Regions from separate parts of the Homo sapiens genome. Here region 1 is linked to region 2. Evidence: fine-mapped expression QTL. A gene starts in region 2. The other region holds a variant in brackets. All regions are shown on one strand. Distances are from middle to middle.

Region 1 (15,292 bases), 50 kb before region 2:
GGGCCTCTCCTTGGTTCATGCTCTATGTTGGCGGCAGGGCAGCAGCCATGAGCCACACATGCACAGTGGCAAGGTTCCCTTTGCTCAGGAACAGTGGGCTCTCTGTGTAGGTGGTACTCAATAAAGATGCACGCAGCCTCTTCAGTGATGCTTGCCTACTCAGTGATGGTCAGTTTAAGAACAAAAGAGCCCCAGGACCTCTTTGATAACAAACAGGACTGCAGGCTTTGCGTCTCGGCACGTGATCGCACTGCCTGGCCACACCAGGGCATGCTGTGCTTGGTGTCGCTGAACTCAAGCGGGCCAGGGAGGAGTGAGTCCAGGATGGCTGGGCTCTCATGGAGAAGATGGGAAGGCTCAGGCAGAAGGTGGGCAGCTCCCTGGACCTGAATCCCAGCGCGTGGGCACCAGCCATTCAGTATTCACCGAAGAACAAGAGACAGAAGGGAGAAGCCGAGGGCGCCGTGCCCCCTGTCCAGGCTTTCTCATCCACAATTGTTTTGCTCACAGGGGAAATGTGAGGAATTCCTTGAGGTGGCTGAGAAATGAAAACTGAAGATTGCTGGATTCCTGGGCCCTGGACGGCCAGGGCTGGCTGCTCCACAAGGAACTCATTACGAACTCACGGCCCAGACTCCATCCTCAGAGAACCCGATTCAGTACTGGGGTGGGCCCAGGATCTGGATTTTAATAAGCTTCCAGGTGATTCCGATGGACAGCCAGGTTGACAGATGGGCAAACAGAGGCCCAGGGAGAGCACCGAGCTTAGGAAAACCCCAGTAGCTGCAGGTAGCAGAGCCTGGGACTTGAATCCCGGTGTCAGGACTCCCATCCCAGTGTTGTCTGTTCTGCCATTGGATGGAAGAGAAACTTGCCATCAGCACAGCAGGTAGAGCTAAGACCTCCGGCCCCCCTCCACACCCCCTCGCCAGAGTGCAGGTGACAGTGACAGACAGGCAAATTGAGGCCCCAGGTGTGGAAAGGTTCCAAAGAGAGCTGCTCTGCGGGCATGGTGGCTCACACCTGTAATCTCAGCACTTTGGGAGGCCAAGGCAGGAAGATCACTTGAGGCCATGAGTTTAAGACTAACCTGGGCAACAAAAGGAGACCCCATCTCTATTTTTTTAAAAAAAAAAAAAAAAAGGAGAGAGAGAGAGCTGCCTCATATCGGTTGCCTTGAAAGGCCACCCATCACTGGAGGGTTCAGATGTAGGCTGAGGAGGTGCTCAGCTGGGAGGCGTTGGGGGTTCCTGTGTGGGGCAGACAGACCCCGGAAGCCCCTCCACTCTGCAGTTCCTAGATCCCATGATTGAATGTAGGCATCAGAGGCCTTCGTGGGACAGAAGAGCAAGGGCAGGAGTCAAGCCGGAAGAATGTGGTCCTGCCTGCTTTCCACAGCGCAGCCAGAGGGCAAGGGTAGCTCAGCGCAGGGGATCCCACGGGATCTCACAGGAGGGCGGCCGGTGCTTCATGCAGCCAGCCCACACAGGGTGGGACTCCGCCACATCCTCTCTGGGCAGGGCAGGATTTTGGAAGCCTTGCTGTGGGATCCAAGCTGAGTGGGCTGGGAGCGGGTGTGGACTGGAGCAAGAGCCAGCGTGGCCTCCTTGGCCAGGAGGCAATGCCCAGCCCCCAGCAGCACCTGATAGCTACACGGAGCAAGGAGTGACAGCTGCAGAGATTCTGGTGCAGGTGAATTGGATATGCATTCGACAGACTCCAGAGGGATGTGAAAGTATCCAGACCCAGCTCCAGCGCCAGACAGGGCCAGCTGCAGAGGGGCACTGAGGCCTGGGGAGGAGGAGAGAAGGCCCAGCTTGCGGGACAGCCAAGAGCAGAAGGCAGGCCTTGTGCAGGAAGAAATGTGAATGGGACTAATTAAGACTGGCATTTATTGAGCACTTACCATGTGCAGAGCCCGTGCTAAGCACTTTATGTATGTTTACTCCATTCTGTGACCCAACATGAGGCCCAAAGACAGTAAGTGATTGGCCAGGGTCACACCACCAGTGAGGAGCGGAGCCAAGGCTGATCCCAGTATTGTCTGATGCCAGAGCCCACATCCTGACTTTGGGGGTAGAGAAGATCATACAGTAGAGTTCATTTAATTCACCCAGTGCTTGGATCTTGACTCTGCAGTAAAGTGTTATATATGGAATCTTGAATACCTCCTCTGACAGAGAGCTCACTACCTCACAAGGTGACCTATTGCACCTTGGCTCAAAACTAAGAATGGCTGGACTCCCACATTTCCTGACCCTGGCACTTGGGATGGTCAGTTTCATTCAGATAGTGAATTATGAATCTTTCCAAAAGCAGGAAACATGAGACAAATCTGAGTGGTACTGGAGGACACCCTGAAACACACAAGGTTTGCCTCCAGGCTGGGCCGCTCCTGGCCATGGAGATGCCTGCAAAACCTTCAAGGAAAGGATAGGAGATGTGGTTCCTAGGGCAGTGGGAGGCGATCAGGCCCCACCCCAGGAGTTCTTTGGTCCTCGCGTGTCCTCCCTGTGTCCTCTCAGTTCTCACTGCTCCTCAGTGTGTCCTCACAGCCACCCTCAAGATCCCTTGGACAGAGGTCACCCAAGAAGACTGGTGTGTGCACCAGGGCCACCCCAGCCATGCCCTCCACTTGCCCTTCTTAGGGCCTTTGCCCATCACCTCCATCTACCTAACAGCATCCCTCATCCTCCACCCACTGACATCTACTCAAATACCACCTCCTCCATAAAGCCTTCCTGGATTTCTCTTTCCAACCAAGCAGCTTCTCTCCCAGCTTGAACCTCTCCTGGTCTGTCTCTCTCCTTGCACTGTCTTGGGTGGGGTTCAGTGCCCTGCAAACCATAAGCTCCACACCCATGGGGCCTGAACTGAGTGTGGTGGTTCCCTGGTTCTGCTTCCGCTGGAGCACAGTCTGTGGGGAGAGTGTGGTACAATTTCTGCAGACTTGAGGTAACATAGGGCTGTCACCTCTCAAGAGAAATGTGGGAAAATTAGTTGTTGGCAGGACGCAGTGGCTCACACCTGTAATACCAGCGCTTTGGGAGGCCAAGGCGGGTGGATCACTTGAGGTCAGGAGGCCAGCCCAGCCAACGTGGTGAAAACCTATCTCTACCAAAAATATAAAAAAATTAGCCGGGTGTGGTGGCACATGCTTGTAATCCCAGCTACCTGGGAGGCTGAGGCAGGAGAATTGCTTGAACCCGGGAGGCAGAGGTTGCAGTGAGCCGAGATCACGCCATTGCATTCCAGCCTGGGCGACAGAGCAAGACTCCTTTTCAAAAAAAAGGAAGAAAAGAAAATTCGTTGTTAGGGTGGTGGGACCCTTGATTGTTTCCTACTGTTTTAAAAATGTGTGTTATTGTTCTATTTTTCTGTGCAGCTAATCCAAAAGCGCACACACAAATGCCCACAGCAGCCCTTCCTCTGCCAGCCTTCTCATTTGCCTCTTAGCCACTGTCTCTGCTTTCCTTCTTGTTAGTTCTTCGCACACTCATGGGACACAAAGCCAACATCTGCAGCCTGGATTTCCACCCGTACGGCGAGTTTGTAGCCTCTGGTTCCCAGGACACAAACATCAAGGTGAGAGGCCGGTCCGTGCCCCGTGTCTCCTGCTGGGCCTGTGGCAGGACCAGCCCGGCCCGGCCCTCAGTGCTGGATGCCTGCTGAGGGGACCTCTTCCCTTTCTGCAGCCACATCCACACCATCCTAGGGAAAGCGGGTGGCAGGCATCTATCTGCCAGATGCTTCTGCTCAGAATGCCAGCTTTAGTGAGCAGTTTCTGTCCTTGTCTCCGTGGGGAGTAACGACCTAGAGAAGGCTGGGCCCCACCGTCTGCTCACGACTGCACACCTTCCTCCAGTCGTGGCTCTGACCTCTCCTGACTCTGCCCCTCTGCTTCTCTCTCCCCCACAGCTCTGGGACATCAGGAGGAAAGGCTGTGTCTTCCGATACAGGGTAAGGATGCGCTCTGTCGGTGACTCCATGAGCACCTTGCGGGCATTGAGTGTGGTGTGGTGCCCAGACCCCAGCAGGGGGTGGAGGGGACGGCTGTCCCACATGGGTGATAACATAAAACATAGACCTGGAGCTGAGCAGGAGCGCCATGGGCGGCCCACCTGGATCCCCTGGCTCTGCATGAATCCCCTAGAGCCACGTTCATCAAACTGCTCCAAGCAGAACCAGGCGGGTAACCAGTGTTGTTAGATGGAAGGGGTCCCATAGGAGTGAGGAGGCAGGGAGAGGTCTGTTGGGCCCAGGATCCCAGGGTGAGCTCATGCCGTGTCCTCCCTCAGGGGCACAGCCAGGCCGTGCGGTGTCTCCGGTTCAGCCCCGATGGGAAGTGGTTGGCGTCGGCCGCAGATGACCACACCGTGAAGGTAGCTCCCGGCCTGACCTGGGCCCAGGGGCTGGGGGCTGGGGTCTGCTGATCACAGCAGGCTGAGTCCTCACCTCCCTCCTGATCGGGCTCACATGTCCCAAGCCTATCCCGAGTGGAAGGTAGCTTGTGGATAAAGAGCTTGGCCTGGATTAGAGGGAGGGTGGGCAGCCAAGATGCCTGGTCACCCTGACCTCCTCCCTGCCCTGCCTCCAGCTCTGGGATCTCACTGCCGGCAAGATGATGTCTGAGTTCCCTGGTCACACGGGGCCTGTCAACGTGGTCGAGTTTCACCCCAACGAGTACCTCCTGGCCTCCGGCAGCTCTGACAGGTGAGGAGGAGGAGCGAGGCGAGTTGCTTGTGACTGCTGTCCTTCACCGCCTTGTCCTCTGTGCGTGTCTCTACTGCCGGTCTGTCGCTGTCTGGGGTGTCATACGTCTGATGATCCTGTGTGGACTGAATTGGATTTCAGCCGAGCCAGGACTGGACCCTGGTCCATCTCCCCTGGCTCTGGTTCCCTGGCCCCAGTGTCCCAGGTCTGTGGCTTCATGGGCAGGTTGGGACCCAAGGCATCTAGTGGGACCCCATAGGGCAGGGAGGCTCGTGGCTGTTGGGGCCAACCCTGGGGCCAGGGCCATCGGGCCGAGCCTCCCCCTTGCAAAGTCAGGGCCAGCTCTGCCCCAGATGTTGCTCCTGGTGGCCCTGCCCTGGGGGAGAGGTTTCTAGAGAAAAGCTGGCTTCCCAGGGACATGTGGAGGCCAGGATGAGGGATAGGCTTCGCAGCACAGCTTGGCTGCCTTTGCAGGACAATCCGCTTCTGGGACCTGGAGAAGTTCCAGGTGGTGAGCTGCATCGAAGGGGAGCCTGGGCCCGTCAGGTACGCAGGCTGTGGGGTGGGCGGCCCAGCGCTCCTCCCGGCAGTGGGGCGTGGCTGTGGGTGGGCCTTTCCCATCTCCGCTGCTGCGCCCTCCCTGCCCTGGGCCCTCTGGATTCCTCGGGGTGGGGACCAGGCTGGGTGCCACAGGACCCACGGCCATCTCTCGCCTGGCCCAGGAGCGTCCTCTTCAACCCAGACGGCTGCTGCCTGTACAGCGGCTGCCAGGACTCACTGCGTGTCTACGGCTGGGAACCTGAGCGGTGCTTTGATGTGGTCCTCGTCAACTGGGGCAAGGTGGCCGACCTGGCCATCTGCAATGACCAGTTGGTGAGAGAGCCATGGCACCCACCGCCCCCCACTCCCACAGGGCCACCCGCCTCCCTCCAGCCCAGGCCCCTCCTCCTACCCCCACACTGGGGCTGGGATTTTGCCCCCTCGGCTTGCAGTCCCAGCCCCACCTCTCCGCTTTCTGCAGATAGGTGTGGCCTTCTCCCAGAGCAACGTCTCCTCCTACGTGGTGGATCTGACGCGTGTCACCAGGACTGGCACGGTGGCCCGGGACCCTGTGCAGGACCACCGGCCCCTGGCACAGCCACTGCCCAACCCCAGCGCCCCCCTCCGGCGCATCTATGAGCGGCCCAGCACAACCTGCAGCAAGCCTCAGAGGTGAGGGCCTGGGGGGCCTTCGGGGGCCCAGGAGAGGGACTGTCACAGGGGAAGCCTCGGAGTTCCAGCCCTGGGCCTCACAGGGCACCTGCTTCCGTTGGGCTTGGCCTCACGCTCCCAGGGTGAAGCAGAACTCAGAGAGCGAGCGCCGCAGCCCCAGCAGCGAGGATGACCGGGACGAGCGCGAGTCCCGCGCGGAGATCCAGAACGCCGAGGACTACAACGAGATCTTCCAGCCCAAGAACAGCATCAGTGAGGCCGGGCTCCCGCCCCCAGCCCAGCGTCCCCATCGGTGAAAGGGAGGCTGGGGGTCCTTCCAGGGTAGCCTGCTGTGGCTCCGCATCCCTTTAACTTCCTCCTAACCCACACCTGGGCTCCGTATCCTGTCCTCACGTTCCCTGGGCCTTGCCAGGCTGTGCTCTGATGGAACTGAGAGGGGGGCCTGGGCACTCCCCAGCAGCGGCCCAGCAGCTGCTCAGTGTCCCAGTCCCTGCCCTGCCAGGGACAAGTGGGCTGGGAGGGGCAGGACTGAGGGTTCCTGGGACCAGGAGCAGGGTCCACAGTCTGCAGCCGCATGCCTGGGAGCTACCCTCCGTCCCCCGCACTCTGGACAGGGCCCTGGGTCCCAGGTGGCCTGGCCAGGAGCGCTCACAGCCAGGGGCCTCTTTCCTCTGCAGGTCGGACGCCACCCCGGAGAAGTGAGCCCTTCCCTGCACCCCCAGAGGACGGTGAGTTGGGTGAGCCTGGTTTCCCAAGGTCTCTGATGCCCCCCCGTCCCTCATCTTCTCTTCCTGTGAACCCTCCCAACAAGCCCCTTCCCAGGACCCTCCCCTCTCAGGACACGACCCACACCCTCTCCCGCTGGGTCTCTGCCCTCTGCCTGTTATGTGCCAGGTCCCTGCAAGACCGATAGTGCCCCCGTAGGAGCCTGTGCCCTGGTGTGTGGGGGACAAACATGGACACCACCACACTGGGGGGCCTGCCAGGGGCACTCGGGCTGTGGAGGATGGAGAGGAGTCACTGGGGGCCCACCTTAGATGGGGTCTGCTGTAGACGGGATGATCGGGAGGCTCTCAGGAGGCCCAATGCCTGTCAAGGCCTGGGGGCCAGTGAGAAGAGAGAGAGAGAAGTGCTTCTGGCAGGAAGGGAGCTGAGAGGAGGTGAGCTGGGGCGAGTCCCAGCAAGAGGTCAGGCCCACAAGGCCTCAGCTGGGGGTTTGGATTAAGAAGGGAGAAAAATGATCTGCACTGTGGTTGGAGAACGGGCAGGCATGGGGCCACCTGTCCTGTAGAGTACCCCTGCCCTCCCCTCAGGGACCGTCCTTGCCGTCAGTCCTGGCTTTCCTAGGAGCCTCCACTTCCATCTTGCCAGTCATCCCAGCCCCCTCCACATACATGCCAGTGAAGGGACAGGATGGCCACATCCTAGAGCCCCCTGGGTCCCACCCACAGGCAGACCTAAGGTTGAGTTGGGGGAGAGGGAGGAGGCAGGTCCAGGCCTGCCCCAGGTCCTCTGGAACCCCCACGCCACTGGCCTGCAGCCTCCCCCATGCTCCTGCTCCATCCCCCCATTGCAGATGCTGCCCAGAGTCCCGCCCTGAGCCCTGCCCTTCTTGCCAGGCCCTTCTGGCCGGACCCAGTCATCTTTTCCTTTTGCCTCCAGACGCAGCCACAGCAAAGGAGGCAGCAAAGCCCAGCCCTGCCATGGATGTGCAGTTCCCGGTGCCAAATGTATGTCCATGGAGGGAGCATGGTGTGGGGCCTAGAGAAGGTCCTGACCCAGGGTTGGGGGTGCCTCGGGAGGCAGAGAGGGAGGCCCCAGGCCGGCAACCGCTGAGTTTCACACTTTCAGCTGGAGGTCCTGCCCCGGCCCCCAGTGGTTGCTTCCACACCTGCACCCAAGGCTGAGCCTGCCATCATCCCTGCCACCCGGAACGAGCCCATCGGGCTGAAGGCCTCCGACTTCCTGCCCGTGAGTAGGAGCCCAGCTCGAGGCATGGGTGGAGGTCTGTGGGTGGAGGGCAGAGCTTTGCTGCTGGCTCCTCCCATGCCAGCATCTGGGTGTCCATCCCACGCAGGCCGTGAAGATCCCCCAGCAGGCCGAGCTGGTGGACGAGGATGCCATGTCACAGATCCGCAAAGGCCACGACACCATGTGTGTGGTGCTCACCAGCCGCCACAAGAACCTGGACACTGTGCGGGCTGTGTGGACCATGGGCGACATCAAGGCAAGTGCCCACCCTTGCACAGGGCCTCATCTCGCCCCCCTGCCCCTGCCACCTGCCTGCCCGGG[C/G]TTGGGGCAGAACAAGAAGAGGCCACCCATGGGGGACAGTGTGGGATAGGCCATCCCTGACGTCACACCATCTGTTTCCGCCATCATCATCATCATCACAGACTGCCGTTTAGTGAGCATCTGTTTACATGCCTGGCCTTACACTCATTGCGTTAGGTGCAGTGCTGAATACCCACAGCCCCATCAGCACACCCACATTCACGTTCGTACCCCCACCCTCACCCTCACAGGGCCACACTGTCCCCCACTGCCCCACCCCTGACGGTGCTCTGTTTGCACAGACGTCGGTGGACTCCGCTGTGGCCATCAACGACCTGTCGGTGGTGGTGGACCTCCTGAACATCGTCAACCAGAAAGCGTAAGTGGCTGCAGAGGGGGAGTGGGCGGAGGGGCAGGGCTGGGCTGATGGCAGCATGTCCTGGCCTCTCCTAGCTCCCTGTGGAAGCTGGACCTGTGCACCACCGTCCTGCCACAGATTGAGAAGCTTCTGCAGAGCAAGTATGAGAGGTGCGTGTGGGGAAGCCATGCCTGCCTGAAGCAGGGGGAGGGGAGAGGTAAGAAGCCTCCTCCAGAACCATGGGAAGGACCCCCAAGAGCCTGGGTGTTCCTGTGAGCTGGCTGTGAAGCATTGCTGCCCCTCAACAGTCCGGAGGTGGGAGTGGAAACAGGCGTGTGTGGGTGTATGTGTGGGTGTGTCTGTGTCTGTTTCTGCCCCTCTCCTCCTTTGTTCCTTGCTGTTTCTCTTTCTGTCTGTGGCCCTTGGTCCATCTGTGACTTCATCCATCTCCCCCTAAAGCTACGTCCAGACGGGCTGCACCTCCCTGAAGCTGATCCTGCAGCGGTTTCTGCCCCTCATCACAGACATGCTGGCGGCCCCACCCTCTGTGGGTGTGGATATCAGCAGGGAGGAGAGGTGAGGGCAGCGCATGTGTTGGGGGCAGGGGTGCCACAACAGGTGAGGGGACAAAGGCCTGGAGGCCTGGGCCCCTCTTACTGACAGTCCTGCTGGGACAGAGTACAGAGGAGGCGTTGGTCTGGGGCCATGGCTCAGGGTGTGGGTGGGCTTAGCCAGAGCTGGGTTCCTCCATGGCCTGGCTGTGCCCACAATCCCTGGCAGGGCCTGGGTGGTTCCCCTCTGGGCCTCCGCCTTCCCTTGGGAGGAAGGGCTGGAGCAGTTAGGACAGCAAAGGCCCTGGGGTTGGGTGTGGGTGGTGGTGGTGCCAGCTAGCCCCTCAGGCACTGCCCTCTCTACAGGCTGCATAAGTGCCGGCTCTGCTACAAGCAGCTTAAGAGCATCAGCGGCCTGGTCAAGAGCAAGTCAGGCCTGAGCGGCCGCCATGGCAGTACCTTCCGCGAGCTGCACCTGCTCATGGCCAGTCTGGACTGAGGAAAGCAGTGGGCAGGGGCGCTCGGCAGCCCACAGGGCCTGGCCTCAGCCCCCACTCCTGTTCCTTGTGCACCCACTGGCCCATGAGCCTCTGCCTGGCCCCTGCTGCTGTCCTGTGGCCGTCCTGGAGGAGGTGATGCTGGTCCCTGGCCACCTCTACAGCCCTGAACTCTTGAGACAACTCTCTCCAGCAATAGCTGCCCAGCTTTGCCCAACTGTTGCTTCTTGGGGCAGCGAACTGAGCCCTGGGGCTGCTGCTGTAATTTATAAGGCAAATTTTATTAAATTTGTAACTATTCCCAGGTTTCCTTGTGGGGAATGTTTTCTGCTGGCCACAGGGCTCCCCGGGCCCAGGAGTGCCTGCCCCATGGTTTGAGATGAGGCCACACCCCCTCCAAGCCCGGGGGTGGGGCTCTGGGCCATGTGGCCAGCAGGGGGCAGCAGAGAATCAGGCCTCTGGGACAGCACCAGTTCAGCCAGTGCAGACTGGGAAGGAAGGGGAGGCGGCAACCACCCTTCCACCACTGGGTGTTGAGGTTAGGGGTGGCCCCCACCAGCCCGTTCCTCCCCACCTCAGCTACACTCAAGCTGTCTTATGGACACCCCCAGGATGCCTCCAGGGGCAGGACTAGAAGGGCACCTGCCCCTTCCTCTGAGCAGGGCTCCGATCAGCTGTCACTCCCTGCTGGAGTCCCCAGCACTGGCTGGCGGGAAAGGGCTCCCTGCTCCGTGGGCACTGCGACAGGTGGGCCCCCTCCTGCTCCCAAGGCAGGGACCAGGTACAGCCCCGCCCCGGGGTGGTCAGGGTCCTCGGCACTGGAGGAAGGTGGCGTGGACCTCTGGCCAGTTCACTGAAGAGGGAAAAGGCCAGGGCAAAGAGTGGGCAGTGGGTGGTGCCCAGCAGTAACCTGGAAGCCCAGCATGGTTTGGGCAAGGCTTTGATAGCCTTTGAAGCTCTCTCCAGCCTTAGTTTCCTTCCCATCAGTAACATGGAGGAATGCCCCTGTTGGGAGGTCAGTTATCGTGGGCACATGGTAGGTACCGCATGAGGCGACTGTGACCACAAACAACAGAGAAAGTGACCCAGGGTGGGACAGCGCAGGCTCCCCCCAGTTGTTTGTTAAGGACGCATGTCCCTAACTGACCTAGAGGACAGATCCCAGAGGGCTGTGGGGTGACCAGCCAGCGGGGGAGTCCACAAGACCTGCCAGTGCCCCGTCCCCCTAATCAGACCAAGAGGGGCTCACAGACCAACTTTTTCAGACCATACTTGTGTAAAAAGGCTTCTTTTATTTTAATAAGTAAAAATGGCTAAGCTTCCAAAAGTTCTTAAATAGGATTTCAGAGGGAAGAAAATTCGAGAGACCAGCGAGCCAGGCAGGTGAGCGAGCAGCAGAATCCCCCACCCGCTGGCTGCCTCTGCCAGCCATAAACACAGCACGGCCCCGTGGCGGGAGGCCATGCGCCTCCGCACACCCCCCAGCTGCGGGAACCCTCCTTGAAGGAGAGGGGCGGGGAGGGCTGCCATTGGTGCCACCAACCCACCCCAGTCCCCATGGTTCTTGGGTCTGCCCAGAGGCTCCTCGCCCACCCCCTAAGGAGGGGGCTGGCCAGCTCTGCAAGCTGAGGAGAGGGGCCGAGAAAGCCTGGGTGAGAGGCCCACCCTCCTCCACACTCCCGCCCTCCTCACGGGGCCCAGTTCGCTGATGGCCCAGGCCTGCCAGGAAGAGCAGCCACCCCCGCCTTTCCGCCCATGCAATTTGCACTCAGAGCCACAGCCGAGAGACACCGTTTCCTTCTGAACATGTTTCTCATCTTTGAGGGGAGACGGGGCAGAAGAAGAGCCTCCACTCTCGCCTCTACCTCCGGGGGTCCTGGCGCTGCAGCAGGGACAGGCCAGTGAGGGCCCAGCTTCAGGCCCAGCGGGGTCACATCCGTCACACAGGCAGTGGCCGCGACTTCCCTGCAGGGGCATGAGATCATCAGCCTCTTGTCCACTTGCCCACCGGCAGCCCACAGCAGTTGCCACCGAGAGCAGGAGGGAACCCAGCAAAAGCACATAGACAAGCGACAGCAGGGGCTAGACCCAGCTCTGAACAGCAGAACGTCCCAGCGCAGCCCTGCAACCCACTGCGGGCAGGCAGGCGGGCAGCCCTGGGCCACAGGCCCCACACTCACCTAGAGACTCTGCAGCCCCAGCCGTCAGGCTGAAATCAAAGTGACAGGCGTCTCACTGGTGGGCTTGCCTTGGGCCAGTACCCCACAAGACCCTGCTGCTGCTACCCCTTTGGACTCAAGGATGGGCCAGGCCCTCCCATGATCTGGGCTAAACAGGGGCTGGAGCCCTGGGTCCCGGTCCTGTGGCGGGGCTCACTCCTCACCTAGGAGGTAGGCAAGCCCGGCCCTTTCTACCCCCGGGGCAGCTGAGGCACAGGGAGGGGGCTGCAGGGGCTGCTCTGGAGGGGGCTTACTGCACAGGCTCAGCCAGCCCATGCTCAGAGAGCAGGGTCCCAGGGTAGAGTCAGCACCCCCGGCTGAGAGGCTGGGGTCTCCTTACACTGCCCCCTTCCCACAGACCTTCCATTTCCCACCTGCAGAACGGACACAGCACTGTCTGCCCTGACTACTGCCTGGGGGCAGGGGAGGTTGTAAAACAGGTTCTGGAGAAGGTGTAAGAACTTTTTAAAAAGGAAAGAAAAGAGAAAGCCCATCCAGGTAAGGGCAGCCTGGTGACTATTACCCTGGGGAGACTCCCCACCCACACTGCCACTCCAGGCTCACCCGAGGGCTGCAGCTTCCTCCGGATGGATCCAGGGCGGCTACTGGTCCCAGAGCTGGGGGCTGAGTGGGCCCGTGCCGAGGGCTGTGGCGTCTGACAAGCCGGCTCCCACTGTGAGCAGGGAAGGGCGGATGGGCGGGGGCCACGGCTGCCCTGGCTCCCCACCCTGCTGTGCTTCTCTCTACTCCCCTGCCCTGCCTCCTAACACCCAGTTTCCTCATCTGCAAAATGGGCATGATGTTTGTGCCCCAGCCTCAGTTATGGCAAGAATTAAATGAGATAATTCATGTAAAGAAGTCAACTAGTTACCACTGAGCATCTACTATGTGCCACCCCCACGGCCAGCTCGTCACCCCACAGGAACCTCCGAGGCCAAGAAGAAATACCTGTACTGAAGAGGCTGCTGGCTGTGGGTTCCAGCCGTAGCTCCACCCAACTCCGGCAGCTTCCCTGCCCCCACTGCTTCAGGACGTCCCCGCCCAGCTCCCTGCTCCTGCCATGACCCAAAGTCTCTGACCCAGGGCCACCTGAGCCAGGCCTGTGACAGTCCCCGTACCTCTAGATGCTCCTGGCTTGACCAGGACCCAAGCTCTGCCCTGCGTAGCCCAGGCCCCAGCTCCACAGAGCGCACCCTCTCAGCAAACTTGAGGGAATAGAGCGTCTCGCTAGTGTTCTTCTCCACGGGGGACACCTAGGGGACACGAGAGCTCACTGCCCACCCGGGCCAGCTGGAGGGGCAACAGGGTCACGAGAGGGAGCTCACAGCTGGGGCCGTCAGAAGGCTTCCTGGAGAGGCCTGAGGGATGGGGTGGGAGGGCAGGCAACATGGCAGAGGTGCTGTGGTCAAAGGTGGAGAGGAGGGACTGGGAGTTACACAGGGTGTGTGTGGCCAGGTCTAGGGGCGGGGAGGTCCATTTGCACAGCCTGGGGTGACTGGGTCTCACTGCTAGCGTAGCCCCTACATGCTAGGGACTGGCCCGCCCTAACCCAAGGTCCTCACCTGTACCACCATGAGGGTCTTGCTGTCACCACTAAGCGAATCCTGCAGCAGGTAGGTGAGCTTGGAGTTGCGGAAGGGCACGTGGCCCTGGCGGGAGCGCAGGGCAGCAATGACGTCCCCCAGAGCCGACAGCGACTTGTTGATGTGCTGCGCCTCCCGCAGGCGGCTGCCCTCGGCCCCCGACTTGCCCACGCGCTCCGAGCCAGCCAAGTCCACCAGGTTCAGCTTCCCTGCAGGGAAGGCACCCACCAGATCAGGCCTGCCCTGCCCCTTGGGGTTGTGGGGATCCTCAGGCCAGGCTGCCTGCCACTCTCACCCGTGGTGCGGAGGCCTGTGCTGCAGTCCACGCCTCGCACCGTCACGATGAGCAGCGCGTGCGAGCGGGAGCTGTGCTCGTTCAGGTTGGTGAACTCGGTCGTGCGATTAGTGTGGCCAAACTCAAACACCTGGGGGATTGGGAGGAGGGCAGAGGCACAGCGTTGAGAATGGGGTCCTCAGAGTCACCTGGCCCCAAGCACCCATGAGGAGTGGCACCACCCTCCGCAGTTTAGATGAGGAAACTGAGGCTCAGAGAGGCGTGCGGACTTGCCCAAGGGTGCGTGCTTAGGACACAGCAGAGCCTACATTCAAACCCAGTTGTGTCCTCTAGAGCAGTGTGGCTGTGGTCAGGGGCTCCCGCCTCCACACCTTGTTGATGTCGTCCACGCTCTGCACTTGGAACTCAGTCAGCCCTGGTACATACAGCTGCCCACTGCCGTCTGGGCACAGCCGGATCTCCAGTTTTTCCTGAGGCTCTTTCCCTAGCAGGTCCCTGGAGGGGCAGGTGAGACAGTCACCCCCTCCTCCCATTTCCAGCTGCTGTTTGCACTGCACCCAGCCCCCCAGCCAGGAATGTTCCCCCAACCCAGGAAGCCTTCTCCAGCCATCAGCTGAGTGCATCTCTCCTCCTCCAGCTCCTCCACCGCATTCAGCTGAAGACGTGGAGATCTCACTCCACAATACAATGAGCCCCTGTTGGCAGGGCCCCTAGCTGCCCACTCTCACCCATGGCCACCTGGTGTAGCCCACAGGTAGGGGCAAGGATTGCCTGGGTCTCAGAGAGAGCCCCTCCTCCCCCCAGAACCATCCAACCCACTGGGCTGAGTCAGGACTTGCAGCCAGGTCCCTTGACGGCCTCATCTGGTCCCTACACTCCCTTCACCTTGACGGCCTCATCTGGTCCCTACACTCCCTTCAGGAAGACCCCACTTCCTATCCCCCATTGCTCCAGCACCACCCCTGAGGATCCCAAAGCTGCCCCTGAGGCCTGCTCCCCACATACTGGGGGTCCCACCTGAGGACCTCGTTCCAGCACCACCCCGGAGGACCCCAAAGCTGCCCCTGAGGCCTGCTCCGCACACCCTGGGGCTCCCACCTGAGGACCTCATTGTAGATCTCCGCAGCGCTGACGGTGATGGTGTACTCCCAGTCAGACGCCTTCTCCTGCACCTCGGAGAAGAGCAGCTGCAGGGCCCGCTGGTTGATACCTGGGTTCTCAGCGGTCCCCTGGGGACAGAAGGAAAGGCCCCAGTAAGCCAGGCCTGTCCCCAAAGACGCTCGTGTGGTGTCTGTCCCCAAAGCCCCTTGACTACCCCTCACAAGCAAGCCTCCTTGCCCAAAGCTCTTACCTACCTGCCACTGTCCCCCAAAATGCCCTCCACCAGCTGCGGGCAACTGCACCTCTATTTCCCCACCATTAAAATGGCATCGCCCTGCCAGGACTACCCTGAGACTTATAGTGCAGCACTGGGATGAGGGGCCTGGCCCAGACCCCACACAGGGCAGCTGAGGGCCAGATGCATGCCTGGCCCTGTGGGGCCACCTGGGAGGGGCACTGGAAATGAATGACCCCGCCACTGCCCAGAAAGGC
Region 2 (14,741 bases):
ACTTCACCTACCTTGTTTACCAGCCTGGGCAGAGACCGGAGCTAGCCCACACGCTCTTGGCCAAGGACGGCAGCCCGCAGAGCTCTGACCAGCTTGGCCAGAGGGAATGCAGCTGATTCCCCCTGCTCTGTGCCCGACCCGTGTTAAAGTTTAACCCGGCTTCCAGGTCTCCTCTTTTCCAGACAGGGGCGCAGGGAAGGAGCGCCCGGCGAGACTGACGCTCCGGCTCCACGCCCGCCTGGCTCTGGGCTGTCGGTTACCCTGTAATTACCTGACAGCTCTGACTGGGCTTAGGAACCGGTGAGAAACCTCAGTCTCATCTCTGGTATCTGGAGGAAGGAAGGGAAATAAAGAGGCATTTTAAAAATGCGGACTCACCAGTTCTCAACCTCCCCGGGCCGGTGTGTGGGAAAGGGCGGGCGGCCGGGCTGGCTGGGGCTGGGGCGGGGCGAGCCATCCCCGGCTCGGGCTCCGGGGCCCGGCCCACTCTCCACAGGCCCCGCAGCGAGGGCGTGGCTCCCAGGTTCCACGTCCTGCGAGAGGGGACCATGGCCTGGGGCTCAGCAGCCTCCTCGGGGCACCAGGCAGCCTGCGGAGAGAACAAGGGGAGATAAGCTTGAAGACCGTGGACCAGCACAACTGCACCTCGGGCAGAGCCAGCCATCTGGAAGGGTCTACGCCCCACCGGTCGCTGGTTACCCAGCGCAGCAGCTCCAACTGCACTGTCCCCCAAAGACCCTAGGGCTCGCAGGATGAAATGGGGCCTGCTGCCTTTTGGGGGTATTTGTTTCCGAATACGGAGGCTCCGAAGTGCGAAAGTTGCATATCAGCTGTGCCTGAGACCCCACACCTGAGCCCTTCCCAGCTGAGCCTGGAGCCTGAGGACAAGCCAGGTCCTAGCCCCACACAGAGGAGGCACCGCGAGTCAGCAGCATCTCCGTAAGTCTAATCCTTTTCCTCCAAGACATCTAATTTTCTAATTGCACTTAACCACATGCTTAACCCTTAGGCTTCAGGCTGCTCTGCCTAAGGCCTGTCAGCAGAGCAGTGAATGCTCTGAATATTAACATTTCACTGAGGAGGGACTCAAAAGGGCCCTGACTGTGGCCAATGACAAGTGAAGTCTATATACAGTAAGTTCTCATTCATGTATTCGACTAGCCTGCGCTCTGTGCCTAGCATGTGGCAGGCACCGTATGGGTGTTGAGATACAAAGATTCATTCAGTCTTCATTTAATAATGCCTACTGGGTGCCAGGCATCTGCCAGGGGTCCTTTTGGATCAGAAGAGATGAGGCCTGAAAACTCCCAGTCAGAAGGGAGATAAACACTTCAAAAAAACCCTCACAGTCTGAGCAGGCTACTGGAGGCGGCAGGTGCGAGCCAGGCACCAGGTGGTGTGGGGAATGGAGGGGGGCAGAGAGCATTGGTCAGGGATAGAAAGCTTCAGTCAGGGATAGGTCCCTCATGAACTGAACAAATGAACAGAGCTCAGGTATTCCCTGCAGAAGTCTTTATTGAGCACCTACTGTGTGCAAAGCAACCTTGAGGACATTTAAGGTGATCATGCTACAGTCCCAGACTCAGACAGTAATGTCATTTACAGAAGAAGCGAAGTCAGCTTGGAGAGGCAACATGGGGTTTTAAGATTGAGGTGGGGGTAACTGAAGGACTTCCTAGTGGAGCTTCCTGGGCTGTCGACTACTCTCCCCATCCGTCACTGCAGTGGCCACTTCCTGCCAGGAAGTGAAGATAGCTATTTGAAGGGTGTCCACCTCCCCTGACCCACTATGGGCCCACACACATTCATGTTTGCAGCCCCACTGCACCCAGTCTGCAGCTGCACCCACACTAAGAACTCTGGGATGGCTTGTGGGGTGAACGTTCTGAAATGAACACACACAAAAGCTTGAACTGAAGCCTGGAAGAGAGGTCAGGGCTGGACACAGACTCAGAGCTAAACAGGGCCACCAACGCCACAGGTGAGGAGGCAATCATCAAAGCTTGAGCAAGAGGAGACAGCCATGTGATAACAGGGCTCACTGCGGGGTGGAAAGCTGCAGAAGGAAGCTGAGAGAGGGACAGGAGCTCCAGGCAAGTATAGAGTTTTCAGAAGTGACTGAAGTGTAAGTGGGAAGGAGAGGTTGGTCAGTGCCCAGTGCATCATGCCAAAGAGACGTGGAGGACTGAAAGCCCAGACAGGCAGAAAGCCTGAGCCTGTGGAGGGAGAAGGGCAGATGGCAAACTTCGGAGGGCTCAAAGAGTGGGGCGGGAGCTGGGGGAGGAAGCAGCCACTTCCTTCTCCTTGGGGGTGTTTGGCTAGGATGGGAAGGAGAGGATGTGGTGTCTAGAATAGGGGGAGAGTTGAGCATATTGGGGAGACAGAGAGACAGGAGTGACTAAAGCATTGAGAGGCAAAAATAAATAAATAAATAAATAATAAAGTAAAGGGTCCAGGGGTTAGGGGCCTGAAGATCTGGTGTCTGATGTTTGCAGAGCCCAACCCTGGAAGAATGCCAGGCACCTGGCGAGGAAGCCATGGTCTCTTCCTTCCTTGACTTAGAACAACTAGGAGGCTCCTAGGTTCAGTCTTACTGGGAAGGGGATGGGAATGTGGGCCAAAGGACAGGGCAGAGGCTGATCTAAATACGTGGGCCAGCTCCACTGAGGAAACTGAGATGGACCAGTGTGGCGTGGAAGAAACCAAGGGGAGCAGCCAAATGTCCTCTTCTCCAGGCTGCCTGGCACAGAGCTGGGCACACAACCAACCCTGCAGACCAGCTGTCCAATGGGCAAGGGAAGGAGCAAGGCAGGTCCATCTGCAGTCTCGGCTGCTGGGAAGGTGAGACAGTGCAGGGCATTGGAGGCTGACTCCACAGTGGACAGAGAAGACTTTCAGGGAGATCAGCTCAGCTCAGTCTGAGGGGCAGGGACAGGAGGAGATAGCGTTTCTGCGGTTATCAGGAAGGGAAGTGGAGGAGGCAGCCAGGAAGATATCGGGAAGAAAGAGGAAGGGCGTGTGCTAGATCCCGAAGAGGAAAAAGCAGCTGAATTTAGCAGCCTCAGGGGTGTGAAGGTCAAAAGTATCAAGGAATCTTAAGCCCAGGGTTCTGGGCCAAGAAAGCAGGACTCTCTCTCATTTACATGGGCATCTGAGATGAAACCTGGTGTCCGGGGACTTCTACCAACCTAGGATTCGTGGGGGAGGGCAGTGGGACTGGTTCAGAACCTGGCTCCCCTGTTTACTAGATGTCTGACCTTGGGAGAATTACTTTGCCTCTCCGTACTTCATTATCTCCATCTATAAAATGGGGAGAACACCACCTTATAGGGTTGCTCTAAAGATTAGACAAGGCCAAGTGTTCAGAACAATACTGGCATATACAAAGAGCTCCAAAATTTTATTTTTCAGTTACTTTGCTCCAGTGGTGGGTGAATGCAGAGGGCCTGGCTGGGGAAGAGGGTCTCTGCCTCTCTGGGTTTAGACCAGGACAGCAGAGCTGCAATACTCCCCCTGCCCTAGATCAGGGACATTGCAAAGACTGGGGGGACAGGCTGGACAGCTGCTCAGAGACTGCAGCAAGCAGGGCTTGGTCGCCCTGGGAGAGCAGGCAGAAGGTCAAGGAAGTTGTACAGGGAATGCCACCTCCCTGCACACCATCATCTATCCTGGGCTTTCCAGGGCAACCTAGATTTCAAACCCTCTGCTCCCTGGTGCCCCTGTGAACAGCAGAACTCACCACCCTGTGCCCCTAAAGTCCACTCACTGCAAATGCAGGGCCCCATTCTGAGACTGCATTCCTAGCAAATGACTCTCCCTGGTCAAGGAGACGGCTACTCTAACAAGGGCATGGGGAATACACGTCTGGGAAAGAATGGGTGCTCACCCTGTTCAGGCAGAGGAAAAGCCGGGGAAGGTGAAAGACCAGGGGTGGCCACAACCCGCAATCTTGAGACAGTGTTGGGGTATGGAGGTGGGGGCTGGGTGGCAGTAAATGGTACTCCAGAATTTAATTAAACACAGCTTCCTCTTTAATATCTCCCAGGACCAGGCCCTTCACTGCACCAGCCAGAGTTCTGCTCTAACTAGCAATGCTGGGCTTAAAGGGGTGGTCCTGGGATCGCCCTCCCTGCTGAGACCCTCACAACTGCTGCGGCTGTCAATGGCCCGATTCCTCACTGCCCGGAGGGCACCGGCCAAGGCCCTTCTTCCTAACCTCTGGGCGGGCGCACCCCGCCCCAGGCCCTGCCAGGGAAAAAGCGAACTCCCCAAGGGACGTGGTGGGAGGGACCCAAAGGCAGCCTTCCAGGGAGCCCTGGGGGTGGGGAAGACGCCAGGAAGGGGAGAGGGCGGCGCCGATTGACAAGCCCATCCCGGGTAGGGTCTGCGCTCTTCTCGTTCAATAAAATCCAAACGGGGTCCCGAGGCTGCTCGGATCCCGTGGGACACGCCGCCCCTGTGCCCAGCTCCCAGCAAGGTCCTCGACTCGGGCTGAACGGCGCTGGAGGGGACCTCGCAGGGCTGGGTCTCCCGGGCCTTTCCCTCCCCGCGCCCATAGCGGGTCCGGGCAGAGGGGTCCCGAGGGCAGGGCCGGCCCGGACGCGGCGCCCCAAACGGCGGGCCGGGCAGAGCCCAGCGCCCCGCTCGCACCCAGCCCGCCCGGGCCCCCCACTCACCGGCCTGGCGGAGGCAGGATCCAGGCGTCGCCGCAGCGCCCGGGGCTCGGCCCGGCCCGGCCCGCCGGCAGGAGGCAGCTCCACGCCGCCGCCTCCTCCTCGGCCAGCCCGCTCGCGCCCCTCCCGCACACTTTCCACAGGAAATGATTAACTCGGGCCGCGGCGCGTTCCCATGGCAACCGGCTCCGACCCCGGCGGGGGGCGGCGGCGCGCGCCCGCACTCACGCGCACTGGCGCGCACGCGTCAGCCCGGGCGCGCCCCCGCAGGTCTCCCGCCGGCACTCCCACTCCCACTCCCACTCCTTCGCGGGGCCTCCCACTCGGTCTCTCCCGCCTCCCCGCGTCCCGCACTCGCACTGGCACACGTGCTCATGCGTTCCCTGAAGGCTCTCACAAAACAGGCCTGCACACGGGCTGGCACACACGAGGCAGCCCACACAGCCCCACACCTGGTGAGCCATGCGTACTTTTGCACAGCCTCAAACCCGAGTGCAAAACTTCCACGCGAGTACTCACACATACACTTCTCACGCGGGCTCTCATACCAGTACGTGTCTTCCCATCCCAACACACACACAAGCTCTTACTCACGAGACAATACATGTACATCCCTTACCGTGTCCTTGCACGCGCTGGCGCACATGCACTCACACTGTTTACAGCGCACACGCTCTCACTCGCTCCACCACCTACTCGCTGGCCAGGCCGCCTTCTAGCCACAGCACTTCCTACCTCTGCACCCCCAGCCCCACCCCAGCAAATGAATATCTTCCCAGCAAGGAAGCTGCCTGGAGTCCCTTAAGGTAAAACACACCAATGGTGCAGCAGTTCCCGGCCTTGCTGCAGAAGGCCCTGCTACTGGGGCACCTAGAGCCTCAGAAGAGGCCTGGGGGAGGCCAGGGGCCTGCCAGCCGGGAGAGACAGCTGACCTGGAGGAGCCACTCTGTTCTTTGTCTCCCAAACAGAGGCAGCATTTTATTCCAGAGCCAGCAGCAATATTCTCCCTCACTCTCCACACCCCCGGGTGCGGAAGAGGAGAAAGCAAGTCACTCTGAAGCCAGCCCATGCAGGCTGACGGTTCTGCAGATAATCCCAGGAGGGCGGGTACTCTGTCCCTTCCTGCTTGTCAGGGGATGGCCCAAGAAGATCAAGGAGAGGACTGGAGGGGGTCGGGCAACTCCAGGTGGGTTCTATCTCCTGCTGCCGCCCAGGCGCTGGGCTGCCAGTCAAGAATCTCGACCAGCGACGGAGCCAAGGGCCTGGGCCTCAGATTGTTCTGGACGCCAGAGCAGGACAGTCACAGTCCCCCAGCTGGAAGCAGCCTAGTGCATGCTTTATTTGACAACTGAGATTCCTCAGTGAAGGCCTGATAGAGGGTGAATGTAACGCTCCTGGAATCATTCCCTAGAGAGTTAGATTTCCAGCTGAACACCACACTGGAGAACCCTTCCAATGGGAGAGAAAGCCTTATTTGGGGAGTTATGATCTCTGAATTCCTCTGCCTGCCCTCCAAACAGCAGTGATCCAGGGGACCGCAAGGGTGGATGAAGGCAAAATGTCTCTAGAATTCTGATTTAGTATCTATCTCCCTTGATTATAGTCCCTATGAGTTGATGGGGCGGGGGATGGGGAGGACAGAATGTCTTTAAAGTCCTGGTTCAAAACTGGAGACTTTTTCTTACTCAGGGATTGAGTACATTGACATTAACTGTAGGTCCTTCCCACCAAAGCCAAAGCCAGATTTTTAAATTAATAATAACATTTATTGTTCTTTTGCTTTGATTACAAAAGTAATAGATGTTCATTGTAACCATATCCCACACACTGGAGATAAATGCTGCCAACACTTTAGAAGTCTTTTTTTTTCCTGTGTACATAATAGATGCCATTATTGAAGCTAACACTGTGTCAGGCACAGCACTAAGCTCTTTATAAACAAAATCCCATTTAACCCTGAACACCCTATGAACACCAGTACTGTTTCAGGACACCCGTGTTTCAGGAAAGGAAACTGAGCCTCAGAAAGTTTGTTCACAAATGCAGTGTGTGATAGAGCTATGACTCCAATAGGTACTCACACAGTACTATCAGATGCATATGGGTATAACAACTTATTAAGATCAAAGCACCAGCGAAGGAAAAAGGAAATTGAAGTGTAAGGAGGTTGTATTTTTGGAATTCTAGCAAAACTCCGATTTGAAACGTAAAAACTACTTGTTTCATGGTTGTTGCATTTTTGAGACAAGATCTTGATCTGTTGCCCAGGCTGGAGTGCAGTGATGCAATCATAGCTCACTATAGCCCCGAACTCCTGGGATCAAGTGATCCTCCCACCTGAGCCTCCTGAGTAGCTGGGACTACAGGCACACACCAGTGTGCCTAGCTAATTTTTTTTTTTTTTAAGTAGAGATGGGGGTGTCTCACTATGTTGCCCAGGCTGGTCTCAAACTCCTGGGCTCAAGGGATCCTTCTACCTTGGCTTTCCAAAGTCCTGGGATTACAGATGTGAAGATGTGAATCACTGTGCCTGACTCAATTTTTTTTTTTTTTTTTGAGACGGGGGCTCGCTCTGTCACCCAAGCTGGAGTGCAGTGGGATTACAGGCGCACACCACCACACCCAGCTAATTTTTTATATTTTTGGTAGAGACAGGGTTTCACCATGTTGGACAGGCTGGTTTCGAACTCCTGACCTCAAGTGATCCCCCTGCCTCGGCCTCCCAAAATGTTGGGATTGCAGGCATGAGCCACCGTGCCCAGCATGACTCAGTTTTTTAAAAAGAATATTGTGTGGAGTCGGGGTCTAGCTCTGTCGCCCTGGTTGGTCTCAGAATCTTAGCCTCAAGCGATCATCCTGCTTCAGCCTCCCAAAGTGCTGGGATTATTTGCATGAGCCACCATACCATGCCCATCCCAGTTGTTGGAATTTAAGAATGTACAATGTCATCAGGAACTACGTACCAACTCCAAGGTCATTTCTAACCCAGAAACTTCGCTGATGATTTGCATAGGAGGCTGCCAACTCTCCTGGCCCCGGGAAAGGTGCAAGTTTTGCTGAAACCTGGCCATTCCAACACTGAAGTCCTAAACCCTTGAGGGAGGACTCTTGGGTTCAGCCTTAGCCTTGACCCTTCCTGCCGAACTCTGGCAGAGGCACAGCTGTCTCAGGGAGGGCCAGACAGAAGACAGTGTCCAGAACACTGCAATTCCACGCCCACATCCACCCCATCCCCAGGCAGGGACTAGCAGCGCCATCTTTGTGTTCAGACAAGATCAGGTGTGTTCACGGTGGTATGCCCATAGACTTTTTTTTTTTTTTTTTTTTGAGACAGAGTCTCACTCTGTTGCCCAGGCTGGAGTGCAGTGGCGCAATCTCGGCTCACTGAAATCTCTGCCTCCTGGGTTCAAGCAATTCTCCTGCCTCAGCCTCCCAAGTGGCTGGGATTACAGGCATGCGCCACCACGCCCAGCTAATTTTTGTATTTTTAGTAGAGACGGTGTTTTGCCATGTTGGCCAGGCTGCTTTCAAACTCCTAATTTTTGTATTTTTAGTAGAGACGGGGTTTTGCCACGTTGGCCAGGCTGCTTGCGAACTCCTGACCTGAGGTGATCTGCCCGCCTCAACCTCCCAAAGTGCTGGGATTACAAGCATGAGCCACCACACCTGACCCATCTTTGTGTTCAGAGGGCCTGAAACCCTTTACTGCTCAGGCATTCGTCAGAGAAGTGGCCAAGAGCCTGAGAGTTCTGCTCCCCAAAGGGAAGGAAAGAAGGGGAATGAAAAGTCAGATTGTGTTTAATCTGATTCTCATAGCAACCCAGAGTAAAGCACAGATAAGATTTACATGATTTTCCCATTTTAAATGATTTAACCTCAGATCAAGTCTTCTCCGAGCCTTTGCAAATGTTGTCCTCCCTGCCTGGAAAGCCCCTCTCCTTCACCCCATTCTCATCTGCCTCCACTAACCCTTACCTGGCCAATTCCATACCTGCTTGTCCCTCCTTCAAGTTTAGAGGTCACCTTCTTTGACCCTCCCAGGCACCAGCAGGCGGGCTCAACTCACCCCCTGCAGCATCCCCGACCCTGGATCATGATGGCGTTCCTGTGTATACCATCTGCTCCTTCAGGACAGGACCCTTTCGTTACTTGATCACAGGGAAATCCTCAGCTGACCCCAGCTCAGGGCCTGGTATCACAGACATGTTCATTGAATAAATCCATAGATCCCATAGAATTCAGAAGGGAAGAACAGGTGCGTGAAATGTACCCAAACAGACTTTCTTCCCATGTAAAGTAATGATAATTTCTACCAAAAGGAAGTAAGAGAAGGCTCCTTAGCAATTATTTCCATGTGGTCAGGAAGGAGTGCCCTGCAGCTGTGAAAAGTGTGTCCTCTCATGCTTCTGGGTAACAGAACATTTATTGAAGTTGGAGAAACTCATTCTGGAGTGAGCCGCATATTAAGTAATCCTGACCCAATTAGCTGCTTTTTTGAATCCACATCTTCCAATCTTCCAATCCCTCTGAAATCATTCATCATGAGCACCGCAGAAAGAACTACGGAGGAGGCTGGACGTGGTGGCTCACGCCTGTAATCCCAGCACTTTGGGAGGCTGAGGCGGGCAATCACCTGAGGTCAGCAGTTCGAGACCAGCCTGGCCAACATGGCTAAACCCCATCTCTATTAAAAATACAAAAATTACCCGATGTGCTGGTGGGCGCCTGTAATCCCAGCTACTTAGGAGGCTGAGGCAGGAGAATTGCTTGAACCCAGGAGGTGGAGGTTGCAGTGAGCAAAGATCATGCCACTGCACTCCAGCCTGGGCAACAGAGCAAGACTTTGTCTAAAAAAAGAAAAAAAAAAACCCCGTGGAAGAGCTCTTGGAGGTGAAGAGCCTGGCACTGCACCCAGCCCCATAAGCATGAATTTGGTTTCCAGCTTTGCATGTCACCAACTGCAGGTCTTGGGCACATGACTCACCCTGAGCACCTCAGGGGGTCTGGCACAAGGCTCACAGCTGCAAGCTCTCAGGAAGCCAGGCTCCTCAGTGGGCATGGAGAGGTGGTGGTCTTGGATGTCCCTTGACTGGACTGTAAATTCCTGTCATCCTTGTCTGCTCTAGACCCAGCTCAGCAAGCATTAGGTGTTCAAGTGATATTTAAACTAATGGTACTTTTCTCACTCTTTTCTCTCCCTCTCACCTTCCTGCTCCCTGTGTCCCTTCCTTTCTAGAAGCTGTATTAACAGGGGAAAACAGTTCTCCCATTTTCAGAGAACCAAGGCAATCTTTCCCCCAAGAAAATCACCTTGCCGGCCAGGCACAGTGGCTCATGAGACAGGAGGATCGCTTGAGGCCAGGAGTTCTAGACCAGCCTGAACAACATATTGAGACCCTGTCTCTACAAAACAACAAGCCAGGCGCGGTGGCACAGGCCTGTGGTCCCAGCTACTCAGGAGGCTGAGGCGGGAGGATGGCGTGGGCCCAGGAGTTTGAGGCTGCAGTAAGCTATGATCGTGTCACTGTACTCCAGCCTGGGCAACAGAGCAAGATCCTGTCTTAAAAAAAAAAAAAAAAAAAAAAAAAAAAAACCTTCTAAGAGGACTAGAAAATAAAAAGGAAACCACCTTGCTTTAAAATCCAAATGGTGGCTGCCTTTCTGCATTGGCCAAAAAGACTGAACTCGACAGTTCTCCCCTAACTCTCAGTTTAGGGGAACCTAAAGCCTTATGACTCAAGGAGGAATTTGGCGGAGATTCCCTCCCTCCTAGCACTCCAAGGCTAAAAGCAAACGGAGGCTTTGTGAGGTTTTTTTTCCCCTTTTATCATTTCCTGTAGTCTTAAAAAAATGAGAGGAATGCAAACATTGAGGAGATAATGGACGTAAGCACCAGGTAATAAAAAGATTTAGCAATAACCGCCCTGAGAGTAGCACGGGCCAAATAAGCCCCGCCCCCGGCCCGCCTCTCAGCCCGAGGATCCTCCCACCATCCTCCAGAAGCCGCCGGGCTCCTCCTTGCTAAGTGTTCTGCCGCTTCTCTCCTTGCTCCTAAATTGTTATAGCTCCGGGTTCTAAACCAGCACATGCGTTATTAACATCCTTCGCATTTTTCCCCACTTCCTCATTCACTTCTCCCCACCTGCTGCAAATTCTAGGTGGCAGTTTTTGTTTTTGAACTTAAAATTTTTTTTTTTCTGCACAAATCTAATAGAAACCAAGAGAGAGAGGAAAAACACAAAAACTAAAACACCAAATCCCACCACCCTTCACTTATTGTCATTGGCCCAGATTTTTCTTTCCAGTATCTGACCTTGAGCTGATGTCATTTCTGTGTTAAGGAGAGACAGTATAGAGAGATGGCTAAAGGTGGTTCTGAGGCCAGGCAGACCTGGGTTTGAGCTCATTCACTGGCTCAGTCACTTCTGCTGTGCCTCAGTTTCCTCCTGTGAAAATGAGAGTAGGGCTAGTGTCTAACCCATTGAGTTATGGTGAGATGTAAATTGGAGCAAGCACATAGCACCCTCAGCCCAGCATCTGGCACACAATTGGCATTTCTGCAAACACAAGCTGCAGTTATAGTGGGAGGCAAAGACCGGATAGAATTTTTTACTCTGCCTTTTCTTACTTTGAATCATGTAAGTGCTGGGTGTGGTGGCTCATGCCTGTAGTCCCAGCTTCTTGGAAGGCAGAGGTGGGAGGATCGCTTAAGCCCAGGAGTTGGTCAGCCTGGCCAACATAGCAAGACTCCCATCTCTAAATTTTTTTTAATTATTATAATAAGCATTTTCCATGTCACTTTTTCCTGCTAATGCCTACATTTTTCTGAAGTGCAGACATCATAGGATAAAGCCAAGGTCACATTCAGAATGGAGGTTCCAGTGTCTGGGGCGCACCTAGCACTCAATAAAAATGGCTGAAAAGTATTTCATTTATTCACTTATTTAGAGTTGGGGTCTCGCTCTCTCACCCAGGCTGGAGTGAGGTGGCATGATCAGAGCTCACTGCAGCCTTAAACTCCTGAGTTGAAGCAGTCCTCCCACCTCAGCCTCCCGTGTACTGGAACTACAGCTGTGAGCCACTGCACCCAGCAAAAAACTATTTTAAATGGCTGCATAATATTCCACTGAGAGCCTGTGCCCTGACTGAGCTGGCCATTCCGTAGGGTCTGATATTTGAGTAGCTCCCATTTTTGTCACTTTTATAAACAGCATTGCTGTCACCATTGCCACCCACACAGCCCGTTCATTCCCTGGTGTGGGGAGGGAAGGGAGAAGAGAGGTTGTCAATTTCATAAAAAATCTTTCTGAATAAAGAGTCTGAGCATTTTTTTTTCACTTTCTAAACATGTTGCCAGATTGCCCCTCAGAAGGCCTGTACCAAATTTACACTGTCGTTGGCAGCATTTTTTGACGAGAACTACTTTTCACGCTAATTTACAGTTTTTCTCTTGGATCTGGAATTCTCGCCCTGGCTGGTTCTCCTGGGAGGCATGAGGCATATATAAAGATATCTGAGCGATGGCTGTCACCAGAGGGGCGTATCTGGTTCTTCTGCCAGGTGCTCAGGCCGGGAGTGTTTCTGTCTGCTGGGCCAGGCCAGGTGGGGCTGAGAGCACTGACTCAGTGCTCCCAATCCCTGCCTGCTGTTAAGCCCTCAGAGATCTTCTGAGGTCAGTCCTGGAACGCCTCAGTACCCCGCGGTCCAACACTCTGGCCCATCCTAGACGGATGAGTCTCATCTGGTGCCACCACCATGATTCCTGCTCTCACACCCTGGCACTTCACTGGGGCTCCTTGCAGTAAGTCAATCAGCTACTACTGGGGGAAAAAAAAATTCCTCCTGGGTGGGGAGATGGGGACAGGGGCCATAAGGGAAGCCACGTGCTCCTGGAAAGCCATAGCCACAGCCCCTGACCACCTGCTGAACTCTTAGCACCACTGCTGCTGCTGCCTTTAAACTGTAGCTTCGCTTTGCTGAGGTTCTGTGGTGCGCAGCCTCTCCCCTAGCTCTGGTCCTCCTCCTCTGGGGGTGGCCCTTGTTTGCAAACAGCAACAGGAAGTTTTGACGCTGCTGATTAACTAGACTCCCACAGCTCTCAGTGCTGAGTCATCGCCACCAGTGTCAACCTCCCGCCCGCCCCGCTGACACCACCAGCTTCCAGGTGACCGAGAGGAAGCAGCAAGGATCCTGCGGTTCCAGTGGCTTCCATCTGCCACCTTCCAAGGGAGGGGAGGGACAAACTTCCATCCACCCCAGACAACCAGAATGTGCAGGGCCCTGAATGCCAGGACGGGAATTTAATCTAATTCAACTTCAGCAATGGGCTGAGGGACAGCTTCATGCCAGGCAAAGGGAAAAACTCTTTACACACAGGATTGCCTTTGCTTTCATTCAATCCCCGCAACAACATGTGTGGTAGGTGTTATTATTCCCATTGTACAGATGGAGAGACTGAGGCCAGTGGAAGGCCTATGGATGTGTAGGGGCTGCTGTGGGAAGATAGCTTGGAGTGCCAGAGATGGTGGGTACCGCCAGCAGGAGCTGTGTCCCCAACCCACGATGTGACCTTGGTCAGACTTCCTCCCTGTTCTGGGTCTCATGCCCCTCCCTGGGTAAAGGAGGAGGGTGGACTGGTGACCTTCTCAGGGCTACAGCCACAAGGAAGTGAGTGGGCCAGCTGGAAGGGATGGTCCTCATTCTGGGACTCTGCTTGCTGAAAGCCTGATCCAAGGGCAGGAGCATCCCACCTCAGTACCTGGGGTTGGCTTCACTGTTCACAGTTGCTTCTCCAAGGAACTCCACTGAAAGAAAGTAGTTGAGTGGTTGCCAGGGCCTGGGAGGGAGAATGATGAGTGACTATGAATGGGGCTTCTTTGGGGCGTGATAAAATGTCCTAAAGTTAGTTTATGGTGACAGTGTACAACTCTGTAAATATACTAAAAACTATTGGATTGTACACTTTAAACAGGGAATGTTATGGTATGATAATTATATCTCAGTAAAGCCGTTTAAGAGAGAAAGGAAGAAGGAAGGAGGGAGGACAGGAGAGAGAGAGACCTACACAGAGGTCAGGCCAAGCGCGATGGCTCACGCCTATAATCTCAGCAGTTTGGGAGGCAGAGCAGGGAGGATCACTTGAGGCCAGGAGTTTGAGACCAGCCTGGGCAACGTGGCAAGACCCCATTTCTACAAAAACATTTAAAAATTAGCTGGGTATGGAGTGCATACCTATGGTCCCAGCTACTTAGAAGGCCTGAGGCGTGGGGCCAAGCGGAGTGGCTCACACCTGTAATCCTAGCACTTTGGGAGGCTGAGGCAGGTGGATCATTTGAGGTCAGGAGTTCGAGACCAGCCTGGCCCACATGGTGAAACCCTGTCTCTACTAAAAATACAAAAATTAGCCGGGCATGGTGGCATAAGCTTGTAAACCCAGCTACTTGGGAGGCTGAGGCGGAGAATCACTTGAACCTGGGAGGCAGAGGTTGCAGTGAGCCGAGATTGTGATTGTGCCACTGCACTCTAGCCTAGGTGACAGCAAGACTCCGTCTCAAAAAAAAAAAAAAAAAAGAAGATTGAGGCCAGAGAATCACTTGAGCCCAGGAGTTCAAGGCTGCAGTGAGCTATGATCAGACCACTGCACTACAGCCTAGGTGACAGAGCGAGACCCCGTCTCTCTCTTTTTTTTTTTTTTTGAGACGGAGTCTCGCTGTCACCCAGGCTGGAGTGCAGTGGCGCGATCTCGGCTCACTGGAGGCTCCATCCCCTAGGGTTCACGCCATTCTCCTGCCTCAGCCTACCGAGTAGCTGGGACTACAGGCGCCCGCCACCTCGCCCGGCTAATTTTTTGTATTTTTAGTAGAGATGGGGTTTCGCCGTGTTAGCCAGGATGGTCTCGATCTCCTGACCTCATGATCTGCCCGCCTCAGCCTCCCAAAGTGCTGGGATTACAGGCATGAGCCACTGCGCCCAGCCCCCCATCTCTTAAAAAAAAAAAAAAAGAGGTCAGGCCAGAGCTGCCTTTGGGATTTGCCTTCTGGGAATAGGGCCCTCAGCACCCAGCCCCTC

Evidence for each region.
Region 1: its variant is fine-mapped to the expression of KIFC3 in whole blood (TOPMed, PIP above 0.99). The same link has a PIP of 0.9 or more in blood mononuclear cells.

What each region holds. Positions count from the first base shown.
Region 1 is chr16:57,747,343-57,762,634 of GRCh38, forward strand. It overlaps KATNB1 (katanin regulatory subunit B1), which reads left to right. Exons shown (of 20, transcript NM_005886.3): 5 at 3,485-3,585; 6 at 3,919-3,960; 7 at 4,299-4,382; 8 at 4,598-4,713; 9 at 5,188-5,259; 10 at 5,436-5,586; 11 at 5,735-5,925; 12 at 6,047-6,177; 13 at 6,603-6,653; 14 at 7,588-7,655; 15 at 7,777-7,896; 16 at 8,003-8,152; 17 at 8,499-8,575; 18 at 8,650-8,724; 2 more. The coding sequence ends at 9,604. KIFC3 (kinesin family member C3) reads right to left here. Exons shown (of 20, transcript NM_001130100.2): 13 at 14,798-14,928; 14 at 14,071-14,194; 15 at 13,700-13,829; 16 at 13,384-13,613; 17 at 12,940-13,074; 18 at 12,386-12,494; 19 at 11,783-11,811; 20 at 10,875-11,567. The coding sequence ends at 11,807. Among named protein-coding and RNA genes, the nearest start is that of MIR6772, 17 kb to the right of the region's middle. RefSeq lists enhancers at 9,647-10,286, 9,875-10,169 and a silencer at 9,968-10,117. The variant C/G (reference allele first, on the strand shown) is at 8,218.
Region 2 is chr16:57,797,694-57,812,434 of GRCh38, forward strand. KIFC3 (kinesin family member C3) reads right to left here and starts at 4,798. Exons shown (of 20, transcript NM_001130100.2): 1 at 4,677-4,798; 2 at 379-589. The coding sequence starts at 550. LOC388282 (a long non-coding RNA gene) reads left to right here and starts at 12,826. Exons shown (of 4, transcript NR_169553.1): 1 at 12,826-13,091. RefSeq lists enhancers at 3,741-4,417, 5,095-5,771, 12,541-12,670, 12,861-12,920, 12,981-13,040.